Homo sapiens: one gene and its partners. The protein of the gene in region 2 interacts with the protein of the main gene of each other region in a pairwise test. Each region holds a gene or a part of one and is shown on either strand. Other genes may lie near its edges. The genes, in order: CCDC13, USP54, SMYD1 and FOXI1.

Region 1 (7,757 bases), on a different chromosome or scaffold from region 2:
TTTGTGAATGCACCAATCGGCACTCTGTATCTAGCTAATCTGGTGGGGACTTTGAGAATCTTTATGTCTAGCTAAGGGATTGTGAATACACCAATCGGCACTCTGTATCTAGCTCAAGGTTTGTAAATGCACCAATTGACATTCTGTATCTAGTTGATCTAGTGGGGAAGTGGAAAACTTTTGTGTCTAGCTCAGCAATTGTAAATGCACCAATCAGCACCCTGTCAAAACGGACCAATCAGCTCTCTGTAAAACAGACCAATGGGCTCTCTGTAAAATGGACCAATCAGCAGGATGTGGGTGGGGCCAGATAAGAGAATAAAAGCAGGCTGCCCCAGGCAGCAGTGGCAACCTGCTGAGGTCCCCTTCCACACTGTTGAAGCTTTGTTCTTTTGCTCTTTGCACTAAATCTTGCTACTGCTCACTCTTTGGGTCCACACTGCTTTTATGAGCTGTAACACTCACCGTGAAGGTCTGCAGCTTCACTCCTGAAGCCAGCAAGACCACGAACCCACCAGGAGGAATGAACAACTCCAGACGCACCACCCTAAGAGCTGTAACACTCACCGCGAAGGTCTGCAGCTTCACTCCTGAGCCAGCGAGACCATGAACCCACCAAAAGGAAGAAACTCTGAACACATCTTGACATCAGAAGGAAGAAACAAACTCCAGACACGCCACCTTTAAGAACTGTAATAACACTCACCGCGAGGGTCTGCGGCTTTGTTCTTGAAGTCAGTGAGACCAAGAACCCACAATTCTGGACTCAATAACTTTATTCATAATTACCAAAAATGAGAAAAAAACAAGATGTACTTCAATAGGTGAGTAGATAACCTGGTACACTCATACCGGTGAATATTATTCAGTGATGAAAAGAAATGAGCTATCACGCCACGAAAAGACATGAAAGAAACCTAAATGTGTATTGTTAAGTGAAGAAGCCGGTCTGAAAAGGCTACATGCTGTATAATTGCAAACTGTATAATATTCTGAAAAAGGCAAAATTACAGAGAAGTAAAAGATACCAGTGATTGTAAATCCCTTCTAAATGAAAAATATCAGTGGTTTCCAGGGGTTGGTGGGAAGGAACAATGAACAGTAAAGCCTAGGGGGTTTTTGGGGAGGTGAAACTGTTCTGTATACTTTACTGGTGGATACACAGCATTACACATTTAGCAAAACTTGTAGACCTGTGCAACCTTAAGCAATGAACACTGGCCAGGTGTGATGACTCACACCTGTAATCTCAACACTCTACGAAGCCAAGGTGGGAGGACCACTTGAGGCCAGGAGTTTGAGACCAGCTTGGGCAACATAGCAAGACCATAGCTTTACAAAAAATAAAAAAATTAGCTGGGCATGGTGGCATGTGCCTGTGTTCCCAGTTACTCAGGAGGCTGAGGTGGGAGGATTGCTTGAGCCCAGGGGTTGGAGGCTACTGTGAGCCATGATCATGCCACCGCACTCCAGCCTGGGTGACAAAGTGAGACCCTGTCTCAATACAGCAGCAGCAACAACAACAACAGATGAACTCTAATGTAAACTATGGACTTTAGTTAGTAATAACATACCAGTATAGTTGTATCAATGATAACAAATGTACCACACCAATGCAATGTGTAAGATGTTAACAACAGAGGAAATGGGAATACGGAATACATAAAGGAACTGTTTTTTGTTTAATGCTTCTAAAAATCTGCTTTAAGTCTATTTTCTTTTAAAAGTAAAGGCTAAGCCGGGCGTGGTGGCTCATGCGTGTAATCCCAAAACTTTGGGAGGCTGAGGTGGGTGGATCACCTGAGGTCAGGAGTTTGAGACCAGCCTGGCCAACATGGTGAAACCCCATCTCTACTAAAAATACCAAAATTAGCCAGGCATGGTGGCGGGCGCCTGTAATCCCAGCTACTCGAGCCCAAGGCAGGAGAATCGCTTGAACCTGGGAGGCAGAGGTTGCAATGAGCCAAGATCGCGCTACTGCACTCCAGCCTGGGCGATAGAGCGAGACTCCGTCAAAAAAAAAAAAAAAAAAAAAAAGTAATAATAAAAAAAATAAAGTAAAGGCTAGAGCTGCATGGAAAGAACTCTTGGCTCAGGTAGGACTTAGAGCCAGGGAGTAGGAAGAGTGGCATGCACTCTGGAGTCCTATGAGGAAGCAAGATCCCACAGGATATGGGACCATAGGTGACAGGGACCAGTGAGGAAGGATTGAGACCCCTTGCCCCATCGGCCTGCCACTTTTTTCATTGTTTTTCTCTTCCCCTCTCCTTCTCTTTCTTCTTTTCTTTTACTGTGTTCTTTTCGAGTATTCTCAACAACAGTCTAGGGGCCTGGAGGTGTGGGGAGGCCGCCCACGGATGCCTAGTTTGGCGCTCTGTGCACTGCTAGCATCTTCGTAGGGATGGGTTTGGGATGGGAGCGGGGTGATGCTCTGGTTCTCAGGGCTGGACTCCGGGCTTGGAGGGGAACTCCCTCTTGCGAGTCCCCAGTCCTGTGGGGGCTGGGCCTGGAAGGGGAACTGGGAGATGCGGAAGTGCACGCCGTCGGGTCGCATCTTTCAGTGCGGTGCGAGAGGGCCCAGTGGCAGAGGCCCAGCAAACAGCGCTTGTCAGGCGGACCTGAGTTCGAGTTCTGACTGTGCCATCTACGCTATGACTTTGGGGCAGGCGACCCACCCTCTGCGCCTCATTAACCCATGTACTGCATGGAAAATAAGCGTCTGCCTGGGTTAGAAGAGGGCTGTGTGTGAAGATTCAAAGGACGAAGGGGAAGAGTCCTCGCTGGGCGCCCAGCACGCGGTGAGCGCCCGGCCAGTGGCAGCGCGCTCGGGCTGGGGTTGCGCTCGGGCTCGGTTCCGCGCCCCCGGCAGCTGCGGGCTTTCCCAGCTCCGGCCCGGGCCCTTCCGCTCTCCCCGGCACTTACAGCGGTCTCTCTCCACTTCTCCCTTCTAGGACCGCGGCGGCTAGGTCACCTCCTCCGGACGCCGACACGCGCTGCCCTGGCAACCGTCACCAGGGAAACAAGCGACGTCACTTGCGCGTTTTCAACGCTACTCTACGGGGGCCGAGGGGGCGCCAAGAGTTCTGAAAGTGACAGAGGCGCTGATGGCGCGCTGGGCTGGATCCAAGCGAGCACGATCTCGAGTGCGCTGGAGATTTTAAATCTTCTGGAGTATATTTTTAAAAAAGTTTTGTGGACCAAACGTTCTGCACAGAGATGCCCATTCCGCTCTCCTGTTGGGGAGTTAAAAAGCGAACGATCTCACCATGAAATTTAAAGTAGCCATTCAGATATATTTGAAAAATGTAAAACAGTGTGGGGAAAGGCCATGTTATGATGGTGAGTGAAGGAAGCAGGACGCAATATAGCAATGCTAAATAAATAAAGTTGTGTTTATTTCAAACTAGGCACTAAAACAAGACCGAAATAGAAATATTAAAAGTGGTTATATTTGGGTGGTGGAATAGCAGTGCTGTGTTTTTATTTTTACACTTTAGAGAATTTTTAAAATAATGAACATCGTTTATTTTCATAAAGGAAAATACTTGTTTTTTTTTTTTTAAATGGCACCTTCCAATGTAAGACACTACTATATTTCAGGGCAATATGGGGGTGGGAGGCAAATTTCTAGGAAAGATGATTCAAGGGAGATTTCTTTCTATCTATCTATCTATCTAATCTATCTATCTATCTATGATAGAGTCTCGCTGTGTCGCCCAGGCTGGAGTGCAGTGGTGCGATCTCAGCTCATTGCAACCTCCATTTCCCAGGTTCAAGCGATTCTCCTGCCTCAGCCTCCTGAGTAGCTGGGATTACAGGCACCCGCCACCACACCTGGCTAATTTTTTTATTTTTAGTGGAGACGGGGTTTCACCATGTTGACCAGGCTGGTCTTGAACTCCTGACCTCAGGTGATCCGCCCACCTTGGCCTCCTAAAGTGCCGGGATTACAGGCGTGAGCCACAGCTCCTGCCCAAATATTTATCCAGGACTTCATAATTTGAAAACCTTGGCAGTTGTTTTTCTATTTTTTTTCCTCATAAGGTGAATGAATACCCATCCCATAGACATGCATACATAAGATACGGCACTAGACTGCCATCAGCACTGCAGGTATAAACCCGAAGTTTCCTGATAAAGGAAAAATGGATCTTTCCCGTTGGTCTCCAATTGCTGCCTGGTGAGCTGAGGGTGGGAGACGTATAATATACAGGTGGCAGCAAAGAGAGACAGGATAAAGAGTAGGATTCAGGTAGATGTGAGCCTCAAAGGATTAGGGTTTTTTTTAAATGGTGTGTGTAGTGGGGAGTATCATTCGTTTGCCTCATGACCACGATGGGACTATGTGGCATAGGAAAAGGAATAGCCAGGTCTACTTAGAGGGCTTCTGGAAAGCATGGATCCTAGCAGAAAGCCAGGTTTTCATTAAAATAAGAACATGCTGTGAGAAAATTAAGGATGCAAGAGAATTTCAGAACCGACATTCTAGAATGTATGTATTAGAAAGTTTGGGAAAGGGGTAACATTTGCTCCAGCAATCCAAGGATTATTTTTGACGAGGATATCATTTTTGCAGTAACCCATTTTTTAAAAAGCAGGGATGATTTTCCTCTAGGTTTGTTACTTTTCCACGGTCACCACTAAGGCTCTCATGCCATTTTTTTTTTCTGCCCAAAATTCTTTTGAGAATTTTCTTTAGTTTATAAGCTTGACATTTTATCATCCAAGAAGCTGGCGAATCCAATCTGGGTCACCAGTATTTCCTCATGTACAGTATACAGATGTTTGTTAATTCCAGCCCACTTTGTTTCTCTAGCCAGAAGTATCTGTAGGACACTGCCCTTTGTTTTTTGCTTTTTAATTTGAAATTATATTGAGATTTTTATAGAATCACATGCAGTTGTAAAAAATAATAGAGATCCCCTGTATACTTTTCCAGTTCTCCACAATGATATTTTGCAGAACTTTAGTATAATATTACAACCAGGATATTGACATCGATACAACCTACTCCTCTTAGATTTCTCCAATTTAACTGTACTTTTCTTTTGATTTATCACGTGTCAGTTTGTGTATCCATGACCATCAAGATATCAAATACTAGCCGGGCATGGTGACTCATGCACGCCTATAATCCCAGCATTTTGGGATGCTGAGGCAGGCAGATCACTTGAGGCCAGGAGTTCAAGACCAGCCTGGTCAACATGGCAAAATCCTATATCTACTAAAAATAACAAAAATTAGCCAGGCATAGTGGTGCTTGCCTGTAATCCCAGCTACTTGGGAGGCTGAGGCATGAGAATCGCTTGAACTCAGGAAGTGGAGGTTGCAGTGAGCTGAGATCGCGCCATTACACTCCAGCCTGGGCGACAAGAGTGAGACTCTGTCTCAAAAAAAAAAAAAGATACCAAATACTATCACAAGGATCTCTCTGTTGTGATTTTATGACTATGTACACTTCCCTCCCTCCTCCTGCCCTAGTCCCTAACCCTTTACAACCACCAGTCTGCCCTCCATTTCTAAAATTTTGTCATTTCAAAAATGTTATATAAATGAAATAACTCAGCATGTACACTTTTTAGGATGGATTTTTTTTTTTTTTTACTCAGAACAATTCCTTGGAGATTCATCCAAGTTGTTGTGTGTATCAATAATCCATTCCTTTTTATTGCTGAGTAGTTCTAGTATGAATGTACCAGTTTGTTTAACCATTTACCCACTGAAAGACATCTGGGTTGTTTCCAGTTAGGAGCAATTATGATTCAGCTGCTATAAACATTCATGTATAGGTTTTTGTGTGAACATAAGTTTTCATTCCTATGGAATAAATGCCCAAGAGTGCAATTGCTGTGTAGTATGGTAACTGCATATCTAGTTTTAGAAGAAATTGCCAAACCTGTTTTCCAGAGTGACTGTTCCACTTTACATTCTTACCAGAAATGTTTAAGTGACACAGTTTCTTCACATCCTTGCCAGCATTTGATGTCACTATTTTTATTTTAGTCATTTTAATAGGTGTGTAGTGATATCATTGTGGTTCTAATGTACGTGACGGATAATGATATTGAACATCTTTTTCATGTGCTTATTTGTCATCTGTATATTTTCTTTGGTGAAGTGTCTGTTCATGTCTTTTGCCCAATTTCTAACTGTCGAGTTTTGAGAATTCTTTATATATTCTATATACTAGTCCGTTGTTGGATACGTAGTTTGCAAATACTTTCTCCGAATCTGTAGTTCATCTTTTAATCCTCTTCACTTGGGCTTTCACAGAACAAAAGGCTTTGATTTTGACAAGGTCCAATTTATCAATTCCTTCTTTAATGGATTGTGCTTTTGATTTCAAGTCTAAGAAAGAACTCTTTGCCTAGCCCTGGGTCCCAAAGATTTCCCCCCATTTTTATAAAAGTGTTAGAGTTTTATGCCCATGATTTATTTTGATGTAATTTTTATATAAAGGTATGAAATTTAGATCAAGGTTCTTTTTTGCTTTTTTGCCTATGGTGTCCAGTTGTTCCAGCACCATTTGTTGGAAAGCTATGCTTCCTCCATTGAATTGCTTTTGCACCTTTGTCAAAAATCAGGTTAGCTATCTCAACAACAAAACCCAATTCAAAAATGGGCAAAGGACTTCAATAGACATTAATCCAAAGAAGATATACAAATGGCAAATAAGCACATGAAAACATGCCCAACATCACTAACCATTAGAGAAATGCAAACCAAAACCACGAGATACCATTTCACACCCATTAGGATGGATATTATCCAAAAAATGGAAAATAACAAGTGTTTGCCAGGATGTGAAGAATTTGGAACCCTTATGTAGAGCTAGTGGGAATGTAAAATGGTATATCCACTGTAGAAAACAGTTTGGTGGTTCCTCAAAAAGTTAAACATTGAATTACCGTATGATTTACAATTCCACTTCTAAATATATGCCCGAAAGATTTGAAAGAAGGGACTTGGCCAGACACAGTGTCTCATGCCTGTAATCCCAGCCCTTTGGGAGGCTGAGGTAGAGGACTGCTTGAGGCCAGGAACTCGAGACCAGCCTGGTCACCATAGCGAGACCTTGTCTCTACAAAAAAAGTAATAATAAAAAATAAAGAAGGGACTCAAACAGGTAATTGTATGCCAGTGTTCATAGCAGCATTATTCACGATAGCCAGAAGGTAGAAACAACCCAAGCAACCTTCAACAGATGAATGAGTAAACAAAAGGTGGTATATATACTCCACAGAATATTCAGCCTTAGAAAAGAATGAAATTCTGAATTCTGGATGAACCTTGAAAACATTATGCTAAGTGAAATAAGCCAGACACAAAATGGCAAATATTGTACGATTCCATGTATATTAGGTACCTAGAATGAACAAATTCATAGAGACAGAAAGTAGAATAGAGGATGCTAGGGAGTGGAAGAACGGGGCAAGTAGAGAGGTTTGGGGGTTTTTGTTTGTTTTTGAGACAGGGTCTCGCTCTATCGCCCAGGCTGGAATGCAGTCGTGCAATGACAGCTCACTACAGCCTCAACCACCTGGGCTCAGGTTATCTTCCCACCTTAGCATCCCAAGTAGTTGGGACCACAGGCTCGCACCACCACACCGAGCTAATTTTTGTATTTTTTGTAGAGATGGTGTTTCGCCATGTTGCCCAGGTTGATCTCGAACTCCTGGGCTCAAGCGATCTGCCTTGACCTCCCAAAGTGCTAGGATTATAGGTGTGAGCCACCACATCCAACCAGAAGTTATTCT
Region 2 (7,032 bases):
TTTTTTTTTTAGCATTTTTTGAAAAACTAATTTGGTGGCCGGGCGTGGTGGCTCACACCTGTAATCCCAGCACTTTGGGAAGCTGAGGCAGGTGGATTGCTTGAGCTCAGAGTTTGAGACCAGCCTGGGCAACATGGTGAAACCCCGTCTCTACAAAATATACAAAAATTAGTCAGGTGTGGTGGCACATGCCTGTAATCCCAGCTACTTGGGAGGCTGAAGCACGAGAATCGCTTGAACCTGGGAGACGGAGGTTGCAGTGAGCTGAGGTTGTGCCACTGCACTCCAGCCTGGGCAACAGAGCGAGACTCTGTCTCAAAAAATAAATAAATTTTAAAAAGTAATGTAATTTGGTGCTTAATAAATGTTTTACAATAAGATAAAGAACTCTCAAATTATATTTTTTCTTTTTTTTTTTTGAGACAGTTTCACTCTTGTCACCCAGGCTGGAGTGCAGTGGCGTGATCTCGGCTCACTGCAACCTCCATCTCCTGGGTTCAAGCAATTCTCCTGCCTCAGCCTCCCGAGTAGCTGGGATTACAGGCACGTGCCACAATACCCGGCTAATTTTTTTTGTATTTTTAGTAGAGATGGGGTTTCACCACGTTGGTCAGGCTGGTCTCGAACTCCTGACCTCAGGTGATCCACCCGACTCAGCCTCCCAAAGTGCTGGGATTACAGGCGTGAGCCACCGCACCTGGCCAAATTATATTTTTTCATATGTGAATCCTAATTGGCATTTTCCTTCATCTACTTCCCAATTAATTCTATCTGATCACTTCTTTATTCTATGTCATATCACTCCTCTTTTTTTTGAGACAGGGTCTTGTTCTGTTGCTCAGGCTGGAGCGCAGTAGCATGACCACAGCTCGCCGCAGCCTCAACCTCCCAGTCTCAGTTGATCCTCCTGCTTCAGCCTCCCAAGTAGCTGGACTACTGACCCGCACCACCACACCCAGCTAATTTTCTCAGTCTTTGTAGAGATGGGGATCTTACTGTGTTGCCCAGCTGGTCTTGAACTCCTGGGCTCAAGTGATCCTCACACCTTGGCTTCTCAAAGTGCTGGTATTACAGGTGTGAGCCACTGCACCCAGCCTGTCATGTCACTTCTTAAGGACTCAGTTTTTAAACCAAGGACTCTAACAAAAATAAAGACTAGTTTGATTTTACTTTTTTTTTTTAAGAGATAGGGTCTCACTGTGTTGCCCAGGCTGGAGGAGAGTGGCTGTTCACAGGCATGTGCTCATAGCACACTACAGCCTGAAGCTCCTGGCCTCAAGTGATTTTCCTGCCTCAGTCTCCCAAGTAGCTGGGGTTACAGGCATGAGTCATCATGCTCCGCTTGATTTGATAAATATATTGAGAATAGATTGACTACTAGATAGATTTTTAAAAATTTGTTTCTTTACACTACTAGACAAAAAAATTAATGGTCAGTAAGTACTCTTTCATACTGTTTTCAGAAGTATAGTCTTCTTCAAAGCTAACTGGCCAGTATGTATCAATATTTTTTTTAAGTTTATAACATTCAAATTAGTCAGGTATGGTAGTGCATGCCTGTAGTCCCAACTACTCAAGGGGCTGAGGTGGGAGGATCTCTTGAGCCAAGAAGGTCAAGGCTACAGTGAGCTGTGATCATGTCACTGCACTCCAGCCAAGACAACAACATGAGACCCTGTCTCAAAAATGAAAAAAAAAAAGTTTATAACATTCAACTAGTTATTAGTCTTCTAAAAGGTTATTCTAAGGAGCTCATGAGAAACGTGACCACTTAAGTGCAAAGATATTCAACACAGTACTATGTTATTAAAAATTACAAGTAAGCCAGGAGCGGTGGCTCACCTTATAGTCACTTCTCACTTTATAGTCCCAGCACTTTGGGAGGCTGACGCAGGCGGATTACTTGAGGCCAGGAGTTCGAGACCAGCCTGGCCAACATGGTGAAACCCCTTCTCTACTAAAAATACAAAAAATTAGCCAGGCTTGGTGGCACACGCCTATGGTTCCAGCTACTCGGGAGGCTGAGGCAGAAGAATTGCTTGAACCCGGGAGGCGGAGGTTGCAGTGAGCCAAGGTTGTGCAACTGTACTCCAGCCTGGATGACAGAGCGAGACTGCCTCAAAAAAAAAAAAAAAATTGTAAGTAACCTAAATATTCAACAATAGTAGGATGGTTGAAGAAATAAATTACAGTACATTCATATGAAACACTTTATAACCATTAAAGGTAGTTTTTACAGCAAATGCTCACAGATATAACATGAGAAAGTCATGATACTAAACTGTATACATATAGTGTAAAGGATACTGCTTTTTGCAAAAACAAAACTATATAGTACATGTGTATAAAAATGAAAACCAAAGGTAAGCTTATGAAAACATTAAGAGTGAGATTATCAGTGATTTTTGATACTTTATGTATTTTCAAACTACCTGCAATGAAAAATGTTGCTATTTTGGGTAATACAAATTTTTTTTTGTTTTTGGTTTTGAGATAGAGTCTTGGTCTGTCGCCCAGGTTAGAATGCAGTGGCACAATCTCAGTTCACTGCAACCTCCACCTCCTGGGTTCAAGCAATTCTCCTGCCATCAGCCCCCCAAATAGCTGGGATTACAGGTGCCCGCCACCATGCCCAGCTAATTTTTTGTATTTATAATAGAGACAGGGTCTCACCATGTTGGCCAGGCTGGTCTTGAACTCCTGACCTTGGGTGATCCACCTGCCTCGGCCTCCCAAAATGCTGGGATCACAGGTGTGGGCCACCGTGCCCAGCTAATTTTTTTGTGTGTATTTTTAGTAGAGACGGGGTTTCATCATGTTAGCCAGGATGGTCTCAATCTCCTGACCTCATGATCCGCCCACCTCCGCCTCCCAAGTGCTGGGATTACAGGCATGAGCCACCATGCCTGGCCTTATTATTCTTAAAATAATTACTTGTGGCCTGGCACGGTGGCTCACGTGTATAATCCCTGCACTTTGGGAGGCCAAGGCGAGTGGATCACTTGAGGTTAGGGCTTCGAGATGAGCCTGGCCAACATGGTGAACCCCATCTCTACTAAAAATATAAAAATTAGCTGGGCGTGGTGGCACACACCTGTAATCCCAGCTACTCGGGAGGCTGAGGCAGGAGAAGTGGCCTGAACCCAGGAGGCAGAGGTTGCAGTGAGCTGAGATCACGTCACTGCACTCCAGCCTGGGCAACAGAGCGAGACTCTGTCTCAAAAAAAAAAAAAAATTATTTGTGTATTCTTGCTTCCTTAGATAGAAAGCTCACTGAGGCAGACTCCAGCTTTCCCTTATTCTTTAGATTCTTCCCATATCAACCAGTCCTATCAAAGACCACCTTAGTAAATGTTATTGTAAAATCTACATTAGGATACGGATCCTCAGAAATGTATCTTAATATCAAGTCTTAGGACAGGCACGGTGGCTCACACCTTTAATCCCAGCACTTTGGGAGGCTGAGGCGGGGGGATCACCTGAGGTCAGGAGTTCAAGACCAGCCTGGCCAACGTGGTGAAACCCTGTCTCTACTAAAAATACAAGAGTTAGCCAGGTGTGGTGGTGGACGCCTGTAATCTCAGCTACTTGGGAGGCTGAGGCAGGAGAATCACTTGAACCCGGGAGGCGGAGGTTGCAGTGAGCTGAGATCACGCCATTGCACTCCAGCCTGGGCAACAGGAGTGCAACTCTTCTCAGAAAAAAAAAAAAATGAATAAAAAATCAAATCTTATATTTATGTGGTATTCCCCTCAAAGGCTCTGGAGAACACAGTAAGTACTCAATAAACACTTACTCAACTGTAATTATATGTTGGTTGTCAGCATGCAAGGAACCTGCACCATTACAGAAACTGTCACAGCCAAGCTAAGGAAAAGTTCTCCAAGTTCAATTTCACAGAATCATACATGCCATTTTAGAGTTAGAACATATCTTTTTTTAAAAAAAAAGCCAGTTCTCTCATTTTACAGGTAAAACCTTGGCCCTGGGATATTAAGTGACTTGTCCAAATTTATACTGAGAGTTAATGTTGGAATCAGGAAAATAGTTCAGGCTTTGGAGTTAAGTGCATCAATGTAAGTTACAAACATTCTTCATGTCTTCAATTTCCAGAACTGACTATGATGTGCACTTCAGGTGCAGGCTCTACTCTTCACTCTGTATTATCTCAGTCAGTGGCTACCCTGTAGGCATATAGTACATTAAAAATTCCTTGAACACCAAACTTGACTTTTCCTAAAGGGATCAGGAAGGTCTTGATATTGCTGGTTCAGTATGATCTGGAAATGTCCACACTGAGCATATGGACATCCTACTGCAAAGCAGACCTGGAGGCTGAATCTTGGGATTCTAAGCCATAGAAGAATATATTTTCCTCTCAGCCTCCCTCCATTTCATGCTGTCATGCTGAATCACTCTCAAACACCTATGAACCATTCTTTTTTTTTTTTTTTTTTTGAAACGGAGTCTCATTCTGTTACCCAGGTTGGAGTGCAGTGGTGCGATCTCAGCTCACTGTAACCTCTGCCTCCCGAATTCAAGTGATTTCCCTGCCTCAGCCTCCCGAGTAGCTGGGACTACAGGCAAGTACCACCACGCCCGGCTAATTTTCTGTATTTTTAGTAGAGAAGGGGTTTCACTATGTTGGCCAGGATGGTCTCGATCTCCTGACCTTGTGATCTGCCCGCCTCGACCTCCCAAAGTGCTGGGATTACAGGAGTGAGCCACCGTGCCCGGCCCTGAACCATTCTTTAGCACAGCATACTGGAGAAGCCATGGGCAAATACTTAGTAATCTCTTACTTTAGAAGGAGGGAAGTTGCCTATGAGTGGTAATTCTGCCCCTTCCTCCACTCTAGCCAGAAAAATGTCTAGGTCTTGTCCTGAAGGCTTTCTGAGTAAAGTCAAAAGTTCTATTACCTCCTACTAAGCTGGGGATAGTATCTGTATAGAACACTCCCTTCTGATCTTTCCCTGCTTTCAGCTTTTATATGATCCTCCCCCCTCCCCCCAACCCCTGGTTGCATTCTTACCTGTTTGGCTAAGTGGGTGCCAGGCGGTATCCTGCTGCCCCCATCCAGAACAGCCAGCTTGAGAAGCCTGAAGACTGGCCTGATACAGAGACTCCAATTCTGAGGTCTCCTGCTCTGTGTCTTGGTTCCAATGTGGATGCAAAAGGATGTGATTTCTCTCTGGATAGGTTACACACGTATGGGAATCATGAGGGGAGGACTTCATTCCTGGCCTAGGTGCCCCATGCTTAAGCTGAGAATCACAGAACCTTGTGATATTCACCCAGGAATCCAAAGGCAAGGAAGTCCCCAAGTCAGTACTGCTGCCCAGATCCTTAGACCTAACATCTCTCACTTGGGACAGCTTCTCTTGGTATATGTCTGGCTCTGCCAACCTGGGCTGTCCTCCGCTAGAAGTTTCACCATTAGGCAGCCCAGAGTTTAAGGCAAGAGAAGAATGTTCAGTGGACTCTTCCCAGGAAAGTGGTCTATCCCCACCCTCCAGAGAGGATTGTTGCTTTGCCCATGGCCAGTGGCCTTTCTCTTGACCCTGTGAGAAAGGAGGCTTAGAATCAGAAGGGGAAGAGTTCTTCCTTAGACTACCTGACAAACTTCTATCCTTGAAACCTGTACTATCCCTCATGGAGACACCCTGCATCCTCTGGAACTGCTCAGCCAGAGAACGGACAAGCCCCTTTGTGCTGGGAAACTCTGGCCTATAGGTCTCCTCACTGCCTCTGTCCACTTTTAAAGTCAATGAAGTTTTGAGGCTTTGGCCTTGGAGGCATTGGTTAGTTTTCTGCACAGGATCAGGACAGTGAAGCACAAATGAAGAAGCAACAGGCATTATGGGGTGGCAGGTTCTATACAGGGGAAGGCTGGGCTGAGCTGATGAATTTGAAGGACTACAGCCTAGGCTGTGTTCATCACCCCTCTCAGAGGTGGCTATTCCAGGCATCACCGGGGAGGGGTTAGCAGGATCCTTCTTTTCTTGGAACAGCTGTTCTTGAGCAATGCCTCTTCCTTCTTGTGGAGGGAGCTTGCTGCAACTGCTGTTGTCACACCTAGAGCCTTGCAGCTTACCCTCTGGGGCATCCAATGGCTCCCAACTATGATGAGAATTCTTCTCAGTCCACCCTGGTGCTTTAGGTAAACCTTGCCTGTGGAATGCAGAGGGTTCAATGTTGTCTACTTCAACCGAAGTCAGAAGCTTCAAGGCAGATCTACTGGGGGAGCTGTGCTGTGGGGCAGATGACTCTGGAGATAGTGATGAGTGTGACTCATGGCAGGAAGCAGGTGAATGGAAGAAAGAACTGGCCCCAAACTCTGTATCCATGCCGGATTCCAGTTGGGCCTCTTGGCTTAACAATACTTGGAGCGGGATAGGCTGTTCACTGAAACAAATGGAGAGAGCTAGTCATAAGCTGCCTTGACTGACAGGAACACTTACAGAAAGAACTCAACATTCCATTCCCATTTCTAGCTATTCACACAGGGAATGGTAAAAATAAACAGAAAGACAAGCACAAGTAGAGTCAGTAGTTCAGAGGATCACAAAAGAAAAGGCACATGGTCAGCTCACACTCAGGTAAATAGGTAACGTTAATCCTCTTTATTAAACACCCTCACCAAAGTTGCACAGTAACATTAAGTGGAGCCCTTGCCAATATTCTTCACTACCTGTGAAGTCGCATTCCAATCACATTCTACTTGCAAATTAGGAAACAAAATCAGCTAGTCTCACATGCAGATGACATGGAAGGTAAGCAAAGCCTGAAAATCACTCATACCAAACAGCAAAAATCCAGGATGCTATACAGGGAGGCAAGTCCTACCTGGGGTCCTGAGAGGCAGCCCGGCCAAAGGAACTATGAGGCCACATTTACAAAATACAGGGTGATTTGGGCTCATGGGAATACACAGAAATTAACCATTTCAAATATGTTTTTATAATCTGGATTTTGTTCTATTAGTCACTGAGATGTTTCCCCAAAGCAATATGACTCTCTTGAGATTTAGGA
Region 3 (7,000 bases), on a different chromosome or scaffold from region 2:
GGACCAGCGAAGGAACCTGAGAAACTAGATCAGAAGATCATCACAGGGAAGTGGGTCACCAAAATCAATGGCTGGGAGTGATGATTGACATCGAAAGGCCAAATCACATAGGAACTAAAATGTACCCATTAGATTTGATCTTGGTAAGAGCCCTTTTAGTGAAGGAGTGGGAGTGGAAGTCAATCTGCAATGGATTCAAGAAGAAATGCAAAGTGAAGAAAGGCAGATGATAACTATACAACTAAAAAAAACTCAGTCATGAAGATTAAGATCCAAGAGTTCTCAGCATTTTTACTGATTGCACCTGAGAAGGCCAGTGGGGTGACAAATGTCAAGGATCCAGGATGGAGAAGCAATAATAGATGGAGCAAAGTCTGGGGGTCAAAGCAGGGGAAGGGATCCAGAGTACATTCCAAAGGGAAGAAGGACTTGCATTCCAGTGGTCTGAGAGGGAAGGAGGAGCACAGACACAGAACACAGTTTGTTAAAGACAACAAATATTAGAAAGATAGGATGGAAAAAAAGACTACGAATATGGGGAAATGACCAGGGGCTTAGCAGATAACAATGACAAAGAAGGGAAAAAGGTTTGGGGGAGACATTTTATATGAAGGTAAAAGAGTGATAATTTGAACTAGCCAGTTAGATCCCTGGGAGAAAGTTAGTGCCGTCCCTAAGCCTGTGATGTGGGGGCTTGAAAGACTATCAGTCTTCTTGTAAAACCTTCCAGAAAGGAAATTCTTCAAACAAGACCTAAGTGTCAGATACAAGTATTTTGCAAAAGTGTGGCCCATTTGCAGAGTTTTCAGCCACTGGGTAGTGCTCAGAGGGACACAGCAGGTCATCATGTGGTGAGGATGGAGAAGCTAACATTTAGGCAGAGATAACAAACGTGGGACCTGGTGGGATCAATTTACTTCAAGATGTGGGGTACAGCTCTGAGGTCAATGGTAGTCCTGGGTTGTGTAGAAGTCTTGGTGACACCCCAAACTGAAGGGATCTTTTCCAGGATCTCCCAAAACATTGGTGAGAAATTTGGGGTCTCAGTAGATAACAGGATAACAGGCTAATCTTGGGACTGGTTGATTCTCAAGACCCTCATTTCTTAGATGGAAATCACAACAGCCTTCCAGGAGATCGGGATAAATTGGCCACACCTCTGAACAGGGTCTAACCCAGGTGTACAAGAATCCAGATTCAAATGTTCTTTCTGGTGAGAAGAGCAGAAGCCCCCAGGGCATGACAGAAAAAGAAACTCAACAAGGGAAGTAATAATTATTCAGTATTGAGAATGGAGCTTCATGGGGGCCCATGATAGAGTCTAAGCTGGTAAAGACCACCCAGGCACATGTAACCAAATAAAGCCCCCAAGGGCCAATTCTGCAGGGCCCATGATCAACAGGTATGTGTGTTTCCAAGATTCTCTCTCAGCTTCACTTTGAAAATATTTTTTAAATCCTACTAGGCAAATAGCCAGAAAAATATCAGACATTATCTAAAATCACAGGGAACCACAAGGCTTGGTAATAAGGGTGATAGAGGGACTTATTCCCTCTCTGTGTGTTCTAGAAATATTTCTAGAATTCTAGTTGGAACCCAGACTTTTTTTCCCTGGACTTTAAGACCTCAGTTGGTTTGGGCAAGGCCCCCAGCCAGCTCTTTCGACATATGCACCATTCTGAAGTGGTTTCAGGTCTCTGAGTAGAGCCTACGTGGCCCAAACACAGCCCCTTCTTCAAAACTCCACACCAACCACACAGTATCACATATCCTGCTCAGCCAATTGTGTCTACTGCAGACCACAGGTGAGACCAGCAGCCCCAGAGACACCTGCACAGATGGGTGAGCAGCCACCTGAGACTCCAGGCACCTGCTACCCTCAACTCAGATGTCATACTCTCTGTGATACCCCCACTGCACACACACACATCACACACCAGACACATTCCCTCCTCTGCACCCTCCTCCATATAGTTTATAATTGCATTTATTATTACAGTGTGCTTTAAATGTTTCTCTACATTTTGCTTCCCCACCCAACGACATTTGGAGCTCCTTTATTGGGTTCTAGGGCCTATCATCCAATAATATTTGTAGGAGGAGTTGATCTGGGCTGGGCTAGAGTTAACTTGAATTGAATAGACTTGAATTGAGCCAAAATGGCTCTGGGAAACATAGGGCAGTAAATTCTCACAGCAACAATGTTAAGCATTACCTCAACTTCCTCATTAGGGGTCTCCCGAGAGACCCACCACCTCCAGAGTCTCTCCCTAGCTCCCCAGCCACATCGCCCCTCCTCCACTGGGCAGTCCTCATTGCTTCTTGTGGAACAGAGCTGGGGATGGCTCATTGCTGGGCTCGGCCATGACCTGCATGGGCTGGTTGTTCAGGGCAGCCTCGCGCATCTTGTAGTACATGAATTCGTTCTGGCGGAACATGCGTAGCTCCATCTCCGTCTGCACCCGCATGGCCTGTGGGACACAGATACACCGTAAACAGTGATAGCAAGCCCCTAGGACATGCTGGTCTCTGATATACCTTGGGGTAAATTATTTCCAGCCACGGAGATTCAACTCTACCCCCTCAGAATACACACACACACACACACACACACACACACACACTCATTCATCAAGGGCCTAATGTCCTGGCAGTGGGCCCACTTTGTCAGGGAGAGGGAGTCAGAACCCTGAGAGAGTAGCTGAAGGAACCGTTCTCAGAAAAGAATGCTTGTTCCCAGGAACTGCCCAGTGGGGACCTGGATTTGAACCCTGGCCCCTGCAGATACTAGTGTGGGACCTCAGGCAAGAGACATAATCGCTTCAGCCGTCAGTTTTCTCACCCATTTTGTGGCTTCATACCTTACCGTGGGTTGGGAAGATGACAGTGTGTGACACACAGAAGAGCCCTCATCCTCCCACATGTCCATTCAAGAAATACTTCTTAAGGGCCAGGCATTCAGAGGCCGAGGATACAGCTGTGAGTAAAATTGACAAAGGCTCTGCCTTTGACAGGCTCGGTACCCTAAACATAAAGCTAGTTAGTCCGCTTCTCTGCCCCTCACTTGGTCCTCCTGCCAATTTTAAGGGGCTAATATATTATTTCCATTTTATAGATGAGGAAACCTGGGATCTGAATAGTAAGAGGACATCCATGTCTGAGACCACGCCAGTCCTAAATGTCATAGTCATCCTACATTTTATAACACCAAAGTCTGTCCACCTTCCCTAGACTGTACTGTCTGAGGACAGCCCTGTCACTCTCAAATAAACCAGCTTTTCAAAGCACCAAGGACATCAGCAGCACCATTTGCCAGGCACTAAGTGCATTTCACACATTGACTCATGAACACGCATCACAACCCTATCCTTTCCCCCTATTTTACTGATGAGGAGACTGACAGCCATACATTCAATATTTGCAAAATCACACAACCAGAAAGCGGTGAAGCTGGAACTCAACCTGGAGGTCTGATTCCAGAGCCTGTGATCCCTAACTCCACTCCATGTTACACAGAATACTTTCTAATATAAATGGCTGTGTGCATGCACACACGCACACATGCACACCCCATTGTTTACGCTTCCTCAGTCCAGGCTTGGGGTGTTATGATTCAACAGACTCAGGCTTCAAGTCTTAGCTTTGCCATTAGCTCGCTATGTGACTATGGACAGATTGTCCTCCTTCCCTGGGCCTCAGTTTCCTCATGTGTGAAGCAAGGTGATATGGTTTGGATATCTGTCCCTTCCAAATCTCACATTGAAATGTGATCCCCAGTGTTGGAGGTGGGGCCTGGTAGACGTGCTTGAGTCATGGGAGCAGATCCCTCGTGAATTGCTTAGTGCCACCCACTTGGTAGGAGTGAGTTGTCGCTCTGAGTTCACACCAGATCTGCTTGTTGAAAAAAGCCTGGCACCTCTGCCTCTCTCTCTTGCTCCCTCTTTCATCAGGTGACACACTGGCTCCCTTTCCCTCCTGGCATGATTAGAAGCTTCCTGAGGCCCTCACCAGAAGCAGATGCCAGCACCACACTTCCTATACAGTCTGCAGAACCATGAACCAACATAAGCCTCTTTTCTTTATAAATTACCCAGTCTCAGGTATTCATTTAGGGTAACATGAACAGTCTAACACACAAGGGTAGTGGGCTAAAGCGTTTCTGAGTTCCCTTTTGTCTAGCTGGGAGTATGTGGACTTTTCTAAAGCAGAGTCCACCTGAACTCACACTCCCATCCTCAGAAAGCTCAGGCCAGGAAGGGAACACCAGCCTCAAGACGCTACTTGCCTCTAAGTCCTTAGTGATGGGGTGGGAGGGTCCGTGTGTCACCAGGAGAATGGCATAGGCTTTGCAGATCATCCCGTGCCCCACCTCAATGTTACCAGCATGCCAGTTGGTCAGCCCTGCCCGCATCACGGCCATGCCCAGTTGGGCATTGTTGGGGTGGTAGAGCTTCCTGTGGGAGCATAGCAGATAATTATACATCATACCAATCACCCTTATATCTGCACTTAATTTAATAATGTATAAAGTGCCCTTGTTGATTAAGCCCATCTGTCTTCCCCTCAGCACTGCAAGGCTTCTGTAGCCGCCAAGGGGGAACTGAGGCACAGAGATATGGAACAAGTTGCCAAACATTCTACACAGTGAGGCTGTGACAGCTGAAACTCCGGCCTGGGCTGCCCAGCCAACTCCTTGTGAGAAAAAGGGACCAGGATCATACTTTCTGAGCTTGGGGACTCTAGCCAAGATGGCCGAATAGGAACAGCTCCAGTCTACAGCTCCCAGCGTCAGCGACGCAGAAGACGAATGATTTCTGCATTTTCAACTGAGGTACCAGGTTAATCTCACTGGGGATTGTCGGACAGTGGGTGCAGGACAGTGGGTGCAGCGCACCGAGTGTAAGCCGAAGCAGGGCAAGGCATGACCTCACCTGGGAAGTGCAAGGGGTCAGGGAATTCCCTTTCCAAACCAAGGAAAGGGGTGACAGACAGCACCTGGAAAATTGGGTCACTCCCACCCTAATACTGCGCTTTTCCAATGGTCTTAGCAAATGGTACCCCAGGAGATTATATCCCACGCCTCGCTCGGAGGGTCCTACACCCATGGAGCCTCGCTCATTGCTAGCACAGCAGTCTGAGATCAAACTGCAAGGCGGCAGCGAGGCTGGGGGAGGGGCGCCCGCCATTGCTGAGGCTTGAGTAGGTAAACAAAGCCGCTGGGAAGCTCGAACTGGGAGGAGCCCACTGCAGCTCAAGGAGGCCTCCCTGCCTCTGTAGACTCCATATTATCTGAGCTTGAGCACAGGAAGCTCACAGCATTTGGGAGTACCTCAGACGTCTCCCCAAAAAGTGGTAGGAAGGTCAAGGGAGAAAAAAATAATTTAAATGTCCTTTTTGAGACAGCATTGTATTTTCACCTGGTTGGCACCCTTTTGCAGGGCTTCCTTAGCATGTTGTACAGTTTATCTACATTTTGTTTATGACTAACATCCTCTCAAAGAAATGAACGTGTGTCAACTTATTTGGCCAGAAACACAAATTTGCATGACAACATAAACACAGAAAGCAAGAGAGGGTATTGGCAGATGGAAGGCAAGGGAATTGAATTTTACAATTTTTTTTTTTTGAGACAGTCTTGCTCTGTCGCCCAGGCTGGAGTGCAGTGGCGCAGTCTAGGCTCACTGCAAGCTCCGCCTCCCAGGTTCACGCCATTCTCCTGCCTCAGCCTCCCAAGTAGCTGGGACTACAGGTGCCCTCCACCATGCCTGACTAATTTTTTGTATTTTTTAATAGAGACGGGGTTTCACCATGTTAGCCGGGATGGTCTCTATCTCCCCACCTCGTGATCCTCCCGCCTCGGCCTCCCAAAATGCTGGGATTACAGGCGTGAGCCACCGCGCCTGGCCAGAATTTTACAATTTTTAAGCAAAGTGATTGATGGCTCTTTTAAAAATAAATAAATAAATAAATAAAAGCTCCTAGACTTGCCTGTGTTGATTACAGGGTGGAGGGCAGGGTCCAATCACTTAAAATCAAGCTGGGGTTAGCCTGAAGGAAGTCAAAAGCAGAAGATGCCACCCAAGTGATAGATGTGCTGGAGAATTTGGGAAAGACCAGGGATGACAAATAGGTTTCATCTCAAGCACAAACTCTGATTGGTCATTAACACTGGAGCACCATGATAAAAAGACTCAGTCAAAAAGAGAACCATGATGGATTACTGACGCCTGCTGTGGGTATAGGAGGGAGAGGCACCAGTAAATGTGCCATCTATTTGCCATCCCTGGAATACACACACTTCCAGGAGACTATCTGAGACCTAGAATCGTCACCTACATATAGCCGTCCACCATCCTCCTGGCATAGAACGAGGCCTCCTCAAAGGCCTGGAGGTAGGAAAGGACCTCCGAAACAATGCTCAGCATCCGCAGCATGTAGATGTTGGTGTCAGCAAACACTGGCTCCTGCTTCTCCAGGCACTCCCGGCATAATTTCACAACCTAGAGTGAGACAGAGGCCCTGCCCATTACCATTGCACCAGAGCACACGTTTAATTCACATACGCGACCATCATGGTGATACCAGACAATCATTCTTTTTAAGACTGGGGCAATTGCTGACAGAGGTGGGAAAGCACAGGTTTGGGGTATGAATTGCAAAGTGGTCCTGTTGGCTAAGGTGTAAGAATGGGAAGGGTAATGGTGTGAGACATGGCAGATGCAGCACAGCGAGGAGTTTCCAAAATCAATAGGTAGCAGGAAGCTATGAAAGCTATACATACACACACACACAAACACACACATATATGTACAGTCAGATCTGTATATGCACAAGTTCCACATCCATGGATTCAACCCACTGCAGGTCAAATATATATATATATTTCGAGACAAGAGTCTCACTCCATTGCCCAGGCTGAAGTGCAGTGGCTCAGTCTCAGCTCACTGCAACCTCCCCGTCTTAGCTTCAAGCGATTCTCCTGCCTCAGTCTCCTGAGTAG
Region 4 (7,208 bases), on a different chromosome or scaffold from region 2:
GGCATGGCTCCCAGATGGCAGGATTTTCCCAAGGGGAAAGCAAATGGTTGAACGTTGCTTGGAGGAGGCTATGATGCCAGGCCTCCTGCCCAGAACCCTCTCCCGTGTCAATATCTGGCCTCAGGTACCCTTGCATTCATCATCATCCTCATGATCTGCAGCTTTTGCAGATCATGGGCTCCACATTTTACTTACACATTTATATTACTTTTTCCTTCCAAATCCACATGAGACGGATTCTAGTTTCATCCTCACTTTATTGATAAACAAACGGAGGCCTTGTAAGATTAAGAAACTTGGCCAAGATCACAAGGCTACCAAAGAGCGAAGCTGGGATTTGAACCCAGTTCTATGCAATCCTCAGGCCCACGTGTTCCATGTTTTACTGCTTTGTCCCAAATGTCACAATTTGGGGTTCAGAATATACAGAATATATGGTCTTTCATGTCCAAGAAGGCCTCCCTCTGGACTGTAGTATGCAAACTGCATCCCAAGCATTCCCTAGGCAGGCTCAGGCCCTCACACACCCAACTCTTACTCTTATTTTTTATTTATTATTCTATTATTATTTCCCTGAAGCTGGGCAGAGCGCATCTTCTCAGGTTTGAATTTTCACTTCTAGAAATTTCAAAAAGTTTAAAATAATTTCATTCACAAAATGACCCTAGTTGTTAGAGACATTTGATTCTTTTCCCGGAGGCCCTAGGATGGTCAAGGCGGGCTGCAGGACCATAACTCTCAAACCTCACTGCGGGGTGGGAACAGCTAGCTCCTGTTGTCCACCCCAAGGGCTATAGCCAGTGTTCCTACAAATCTGGAATGAAGGGTCCTCTGGGATGCTTTGGACACCCTGGCCCGAAGGTTTAACCTTGTGACCAAGTGCAGAGAAGCTGTGATCCCCAGCTACTGGGCTCTGGGTGCCAGAGGCTCCCGGTGAATAAGGCCTCCTAAGACAGGCCAGGCTTTCTCTGATCTACTGGGGGAAAGGAACTAGGGTCCACATGCAGCTAGGGAGACCCAGTTCAGCATTCCTCAGAAAATGCCGCTAAAGCAGGAGACGCCAAAGTGGGGCAGAGTGGGTCCTGACCCAGCCATGAACTTGTGTGACTCTGGGCCCTCTCTGATTGTCATCTGTAAATGTAGAGTCTGGTTATAGAATCGGTGTCTACGCTGAATATTTCTCCCTCTGTTTTTGCATCATAATCCCTGTCACATCCCTGCTGCATGCTGCATGCGATTAACTCTCAGTGTAGCAAACATAGGTGTGCTTGATTGTACACAGCAAATGTATACTGACTATAATCTATAATAACTAATATTTATTGAGTGAGCCTGTATGTGCCATGTGAAATGATTGACATTGATTACACTGACTACCTCACTGAATGCTCACTGCAACTTCGTGAGTTAAGTACTGGCATCGTTCCCTTTTTCACCAGAAAACACTGAGGCTGAGAAAAGCTAGATCACTTGTCAGGGCCTGCAGTGATCCCAAGGTTGGGATTTGCAATACCAAGGTTGGGATTTGCAGCCAGGTCCTCCTGATCTCAGAGCCTGTGTTTGCTACGTCTCTGCTATATTATCTGTTTTTAGCCTTTCAAATTTAACCCCAAAAGCAAGTCACCTGTGTGCTTGCCTTTCTCTAATCATTTAAATCAGAAACTACGGAAAAACAACAACAAAAATTGCATCCAATTCTTCATCCAGAAATAATAATTGGCAGTTTGATATTTATGTTTCTAGATTTCATATACAATTATAAATACATATTTGTACTAAAAAAAAATCTCATGGCATTTTGCAACCTGTTTCTCCAAATAATATCATGAGAACATAAACATCTTTTCATATCATTAGTTATTTTTCCAGAATCTATTTTTCATAGTTGCATAATATTACATCATTTGGATGATACACTATTTAGCCAATCCCCTACTGTTGGGCATTTAGATTAGTTACAATTTTTCACCGCTATAAACAATGCTGTGGTGGGCATCCCTGTGGCTAATTCTTTGCTCTGTTGAATTTTGTAAGATAAGCTTTGAGAAGTGAAATTGCTAGGTTAATTGTAAGGCTTTGAGTCTGTACTAGGGGACTCCAATGTGACTGCTCTTTGAAAAGTCAGGGCTCCACCTTCAGCAAGCCAGGCCTCCTCATAGAGAAACTGTACCAAACAAAAATTCTGCCTCTGGCTTGGCTCTGCAAAGTGTGCCTTACTCTAAGCCTCATCTGGACAGCCAGAGCCTTTCAGAGAGTCACATTTCATCACTGTTTTATGGTGGGGACAGGTTCCTCTGGGCCTAACATGACCACTCCTACCCAGTTACCTGGAACTCATCCTCTGGGCACCAATATGCTGAAAATGAAGTTTATTCAGTCTCATTCATGTTTGCCACATGTGTCCCCACATAACCATGAAAGAGGAGCAGAGAGGGGAAGAATTCTTTGGGGAGCATCCTCTCCAGTTGGGACAGTCAGTGACCTCTTTCTCTTGCCTCAAAGAAAGTAGGGCATGCAGGAAGTGGGAGGAAGCTGGATGGGAAGAAGAAGGAGGCAAGCGGGAGCGAGGTGGTGACCAGAGGGGCTGACCCCAACTTTTCTCCCATCTGCTTCATCACAGAGAGAAGTCTCAGCTGCTACCAGAACCTGGTCAGGGGCCAGCGCCTACCCTCTGAGTAGGGAGACCACCACCCATGGCCCAAGCTGAGGGCCTGACCTGGGGCACCAGGGGAGGCTGGGACAAGATGGAGGATGGAGCCCAGATAGGAGAGGAGCTGGCTGAGCCACAGGGAGAAGCCAGCAGGGGCTGCAGCTCCTGCTTCTGGAGCCTGAGGGAGAGAGAGAGAGGACGCCTGGGGCATGGTGAGTCGGGCGCTCTCCTCGTGCCCTGGCTGCCTCCATGCCAGGGGCCTCTGCGAGCTGAAACATGAAAGGTCTTTGGATCAGAGAGGAGCTGGGAGCCTGCTTGCCCTGCAGCTGGAAAGAAACTTGAATTGTTCAAGTTCTCTCACTTTTCCCTGAAGACTGATTCCCCATTTTCCCCTTTTGCTATTATTTTTAAGAGCCTTGCTGCTCTCCAGGCAAATTCTCAGGTTCTCTGCCCGTCTGCAGCATGTATGCATATGCGTGTGTGTGTGCGTGCGTGTGTGCGCGTGCGTGCGTGGGCGTGTGCGCGTGTGTGGGCGTGCGCGTGTGCGTGTGCGCGTGTGTGCGTGTGCGCGTACGCGTGTGTGCGTGTATGTGTGTGTTGGGGGAGGCTGCGGTGCCTATGACTGGTTGCCCCCTTGAACCCCACCAGAAGCCAGCCCAGGCCCCTCTGCGCCCTCTTCTGAGTCTCCAGGGCCGGTTCTCTCCTGGCAACTCCAGAAAGTGCCTCCTCACCTCAAAAGACCAAGAAACAGGGTTTCTGATAAAGTGTCCCACCCAGTCCCGGCTGGGGCAGTTGGTTAGAGAATGAGGGGACATTGGGGGGAAGAGGAGGGAGAATGAGGGGATGGGAAGAGAGGCGCAGAGAAAATGAGAGGTGGAGAGAAAGGGACAGAGTGAAAGAGAAGGAGAAAGGGGAGAAGCCGGGAAGACAATGAGAATGGAAGCGAGAGATGGAAGTGGAAAGAAGAACTGGAAGCCTAGAGACAGAGGGAGAGAGGGAGAGAGGGAGGGGGAGAGAGAGAGAGAGAGAGAGAGAACGGGAATGAGCAGCTGTGATGTGGCCAGATCAGTTCATAGAAAAGAAACACAGTTCAGAGCAGAAGGGAGGAAAGAAAATAAGAAGGAAAGAAACAGAGAATGAGATGCAGAGAGGAGAGGAGGGAGAGAGAGAAGGAAACCGAGGTGGGTAGAAAAATGTGACGAAAGGGAAGGACAGAAAAAAAAATGAGAGAAGTAAGACAGAATAAAGGAGAAAAAGAAGAAGGGAATCATGAGGATGGTGAGAAAAGACAGGAGAGAAAGCCGGGAGAGAGGATAGAGGGGCGTTCTCGCTGCGCTGCGTGTCAGCTCTGGTAAGCCGTCTAGCATGTCATTAGTGGGGACCTGAGGCGCCAGCGGGAAAGTCCCCTCCCCGTGGGCTGGAGGCTGAGGGAGGGCGGGCCCTGGGCTGGGATCCACAGGCAGGTGGCCGCCCCTGGGTGGGGCCGCCCGGCCAAGCCCTAGGGGTATAAGTGGGAGGCCGGGCCTGCTGAGCACCTGTCAGGGGCAGCTCCGGGGTGCAGGTGCCAGGCAGGTGGCTCCGGCCAGCCCAGCCCCAGCATGAGCTCCTTCGACCTGCCGGCGCCCTCCCCACCTCGCTGCAGCCCCCAGTTCCCCAGCATCGGCCAGGAGCCCCCCGAGATGAACCTCTACTATGAGAACTTCTTCCACCCACAGGGCGTGCCCAGCCCTCAGCGGCCCTCCTTCGAGGGGGGCGGCGAGTATGGGGCCACCCCCAACCCCTACCTCTGGTTCAACGGGCCCACCATGACCCCGCCACCCTACCTGCCCGGCCCCAACGCCAGCCCCTTCCTGCCCCAGGCCTATGGAGTGCAGAGGCCGCTGCTGCCCAGCGTGTCGGGGCTTGGGGGGAGCGACCTGGGCTGGCTGCCCATCCCCTCGCAGGAGGAGCTGATGAAGCTGGTGCGGCCACCCTATTCCTACTCGGCTCTCATCGCCATGGCCATCCACGGGGCACCCGACAAGCGCCTCACTCTCAGCCAGATCTACCAGTACGTGGCCGACAACTTCCCCTTCTACAACAAGAGCAAGGCCGGCTGGCAGAACTCCATCCGCCACAACCTGTCGCTCAACGACTGCTTCAAGAAGGTGCCCCGCGACGAGGACGACCCGGGTAAGGAGGCTTTGAGTGTGGGGGGTGTCCCCAAGGAAGACTCACTTCCTTCCTCCCCAAGACCCCATTCTAGAAAGTTCTGACTAGGGCTGTGCCCCCCAAGACTGGGGGATGCTACCAGGCAGGACAGAGGGGAGCTCAGCAGTGAAGGAGAGCATGGGCCTGGGGGAAGATTTGGGTTTCAGCCCTGGCTGTGCTCCTGCCCAGTCAGTGACCTCTGGCAGGTTAGACCTCAGAGCCTCAGTTCCCTCATCGGAAAACCAGGGATAGTGACAGCATCTGCTTTGCAGGCTGCAGTGGAGGTGATGAGATAATGTACACAAGGTTTTAGGTGTTATCAAGCGCTTAATCGCCTGCAGTAATTACGATTCATCTGCATCTCCAGCACCCAGCACATAGAAAGTCTTTGGTGAATGAATGACTGGACCAACCAAAGCCCAAGGGCATCCCAAGACTGCCAGGAAGAGGATCTGACCTGGGTTAAACAGCCACTAATGGCCCATTTTGCTGCCTGCCTTGTTTCTACTTAGGTAACCTCCTTTAACCCGAAGACACCCCTGCAGGGTAGCTCTTATGAAACCCATTCTACAGATTAGGAAAATAACACTCAGAGGTGACACAGAATGAAGTGATAGTGATGGAGCTTGAATTTGAACTCAGTTTTCTCTAACATCAGAAATTGTGAGCTTTTCCTTTTCAACGATGCATTTCTAAAACTCAGAGACCTGCAGAGAGGCATGTATTAAATACTCATGCATCCATTTCCCAGAATTAAAGTCCACTTTTGTTCCACCGCAGGAAGCCAAGGTATAGCTCAAAGGAACCCCAACTCTGCCCCATTTGAGGGTGGCAAACACCAGGCCTGTTTGTCCCCAGAAGAGGGCAAGTGTCCTGTCCAAGGACTGCCATCACCCTCAGGCTGAGAGACGGTAGCAGGAAGAGTTCAGGCCTTCCCTCGGGAAGGTACCTCCCAGCTGCAACGCTCCTTTCCATATCCGGTGTGGATCCTTTCTCAGTGGGCCTGAGGAAGACAGGGGCAATGGGCCCACTTTTCAGACTAGAAAACAGGTTCTTCCAAAGCCCCTCAGTCAGTGAGGAGCAAAGCCAGGACTCAAGTCTGTCTTCAGACTCCAAGCCTACGGCTATTAGGGAGTCCCAGAGTTTTCCTGAGTCTTCTTTTCCTTCAGCATTGAAAGCCCTCCAACCCCCAACCCCCAAATCCCTCAGCATCCCTGCTCCCAGTTCTTCATCCTTCTTAAAGAGACCTACATTGCAAACTCCTTAATGCTCATGCCTCTCGGCTGCAGTCCCAAAGGGCCCTGTCATGGGCTGCTTAATTAAAGATGGAGGTGGTGTGGTTCATCAGTTGATGGAATTCCTCCATTTCTCAGTCCCTGCCTGTCGGTCTCTGTCTTCCTGCATCTGTCACCTTGGCTTTTAGTTTATGACAATAAGGAGGAACAGAAGCAAAGCATTTTGTCCACCTCTCTATTTACCCCCTTTCACTTTTGTATCAGGCAAAGGGAATTACTGGACCCTGGACCCCAACTGTGAGAAAATGTTCGACAATGGAAATTTCCGCAGGAAAAGGAAGAGAAAATCAGATGTTTCCTCTAGCACAGCCTCCTTGGCCTTAGAGAAGACAGAGAGCAGTCTCCCGGTGGACAGCCCCAAGACCACGGAGCCTCAGGACATCTTGGATGGAGCCTCACCAGGGGGCACCACCAGCTCCCCAGAGAAGCGGCCCTCCCCTCCCCCATCAGGCGCCCCTTGCCTTAACAGCTTCCTTTCCTCTATGACAGCCTATGTGAGCGGGGGGAGCCCCACGAGCCACCCCTTGGTCACACCAGGACTGAGCCCTGAGCCCAGTGACAAGACGGGGCAGAACTCACTGACCTTCAACTCCTTCTCCCCGCTCACCAACCTCAGCAACCACAGCGGTGGGGGTGACTGGGCGAACCCCATGCCCACCAACATGCTCAGCTATGGAGGATCTGTGCTCAGCCAATTCAGCCCTCACTTCTACAACAGTGTCAACACCAGTGGTGTCCTCTACCCCAGGGAGGGCACCGAGGTCTAGGTACAGAACAGCTCCTGAGCCAGGTGGACATGCCAGAGAGAAAAGCAGTAGAGGTCCTCCATGCCAGCCCCACGGTGGTCCATGACTGCGGAACTGCCCAGACATAAGCAGGAGCCTCCGAGGAATCCACCCTCTTTCTAGAACACTGGTTAAGGCTTCTGTTTATCACACATAGGCCCACACACAGACTCACCAACTTTGCAATAGAAATACTGGTGCCTGCAGAGCAGCACTAACAGTGGCAGGTGCTGTACTAGGCTCTGTACTGGCCACACTTACTATTGACAGTCACCCCGTAAGGTTCAC

What was found.
Region 1: the proteins of USP54 (region 2) and CCDC13 interact in binary tests that used the Homo sapiens proteins (3 or more experiments, as listed by UniProt).
Region 3: the proteins of USP54 (region 2) and SMYD1 interact in binary tests that used the Homo sapiens proteins (3 or more experiments, as listed by UniProt).
Region 4: the proteins of USP54 (region 2) and FOXI1 interact in binary tests that used the Homo sapiens proteins (3 or more experiments, as listed by UniProt).

What each region holds. Positions count from the first base shown.
Region 1 is NC_000003.12:42,770,254-42,778,010, forward strand, and holds the start of CCDC13 (coiled-coil domain-containing protein 13), read right to left. Parts: upstream 3,001-7,757; 5' UTR 2,923-3,000; intron 825-2,922; exon of another isoform or gene 359-824; intron 1-358. UniProt on the Homo sapiens protein: Required for primary cilia formation and promotes the localization of the ciliopathy protein BBS4 to both centriolar satellites and cilia.
Region 2 is NC_000010.11:73,511,343-73,518,374, forward strand, and holds part of USP54 (ubiquitin carboxyl-terminal hydrolase 54), read right to left. Parts: intron 6,406-7,032; coding exon 5,033-6,405; intron 1-5,032.
Region 3 is NC_000002.12:88,105,825-88,112,824, reverse strand, and holds part of SMYD1 (histone-lysine N-methyltransferase SMYD1), read right to left. Parts: intron 6,501-7,000; coding exon 6,337-6,500; intron 4,455-6,336; coding exon 4,286-4,454; intron 2,472-4,285; coding exon 2,313-2,471; 3' UTR 1-2,312. UniProt on the Homo sapiens protein: Methylates histone H3 at 'Lys-4' (H3K4me), seems able to perform both mono-, di-, and trimethylation. Acts as a transcriptional repressor. Essential for cardiomyocyte differentiation and cardiac morphogenesis.
Region 4 is NC_000005.10:170,101,710-170,108,917, forward strand, and holds the start of FOXI1 (forkhead box protein I1), read left to right. Parts: upstream 1-4,187; 5' UTR 4,188-4,248; coding exon 4,249-4,822; intron 4,823-5,207; exon of another isoform or gene 5,208-5,352; intron 5,353-6,339; coding exon 6,340-6,902; 3' UTR 6,903-7,208. UniProt on the Homo sapiens protein: Transcriptional activator required for the development of normal hearing, sense of balance and kidney function.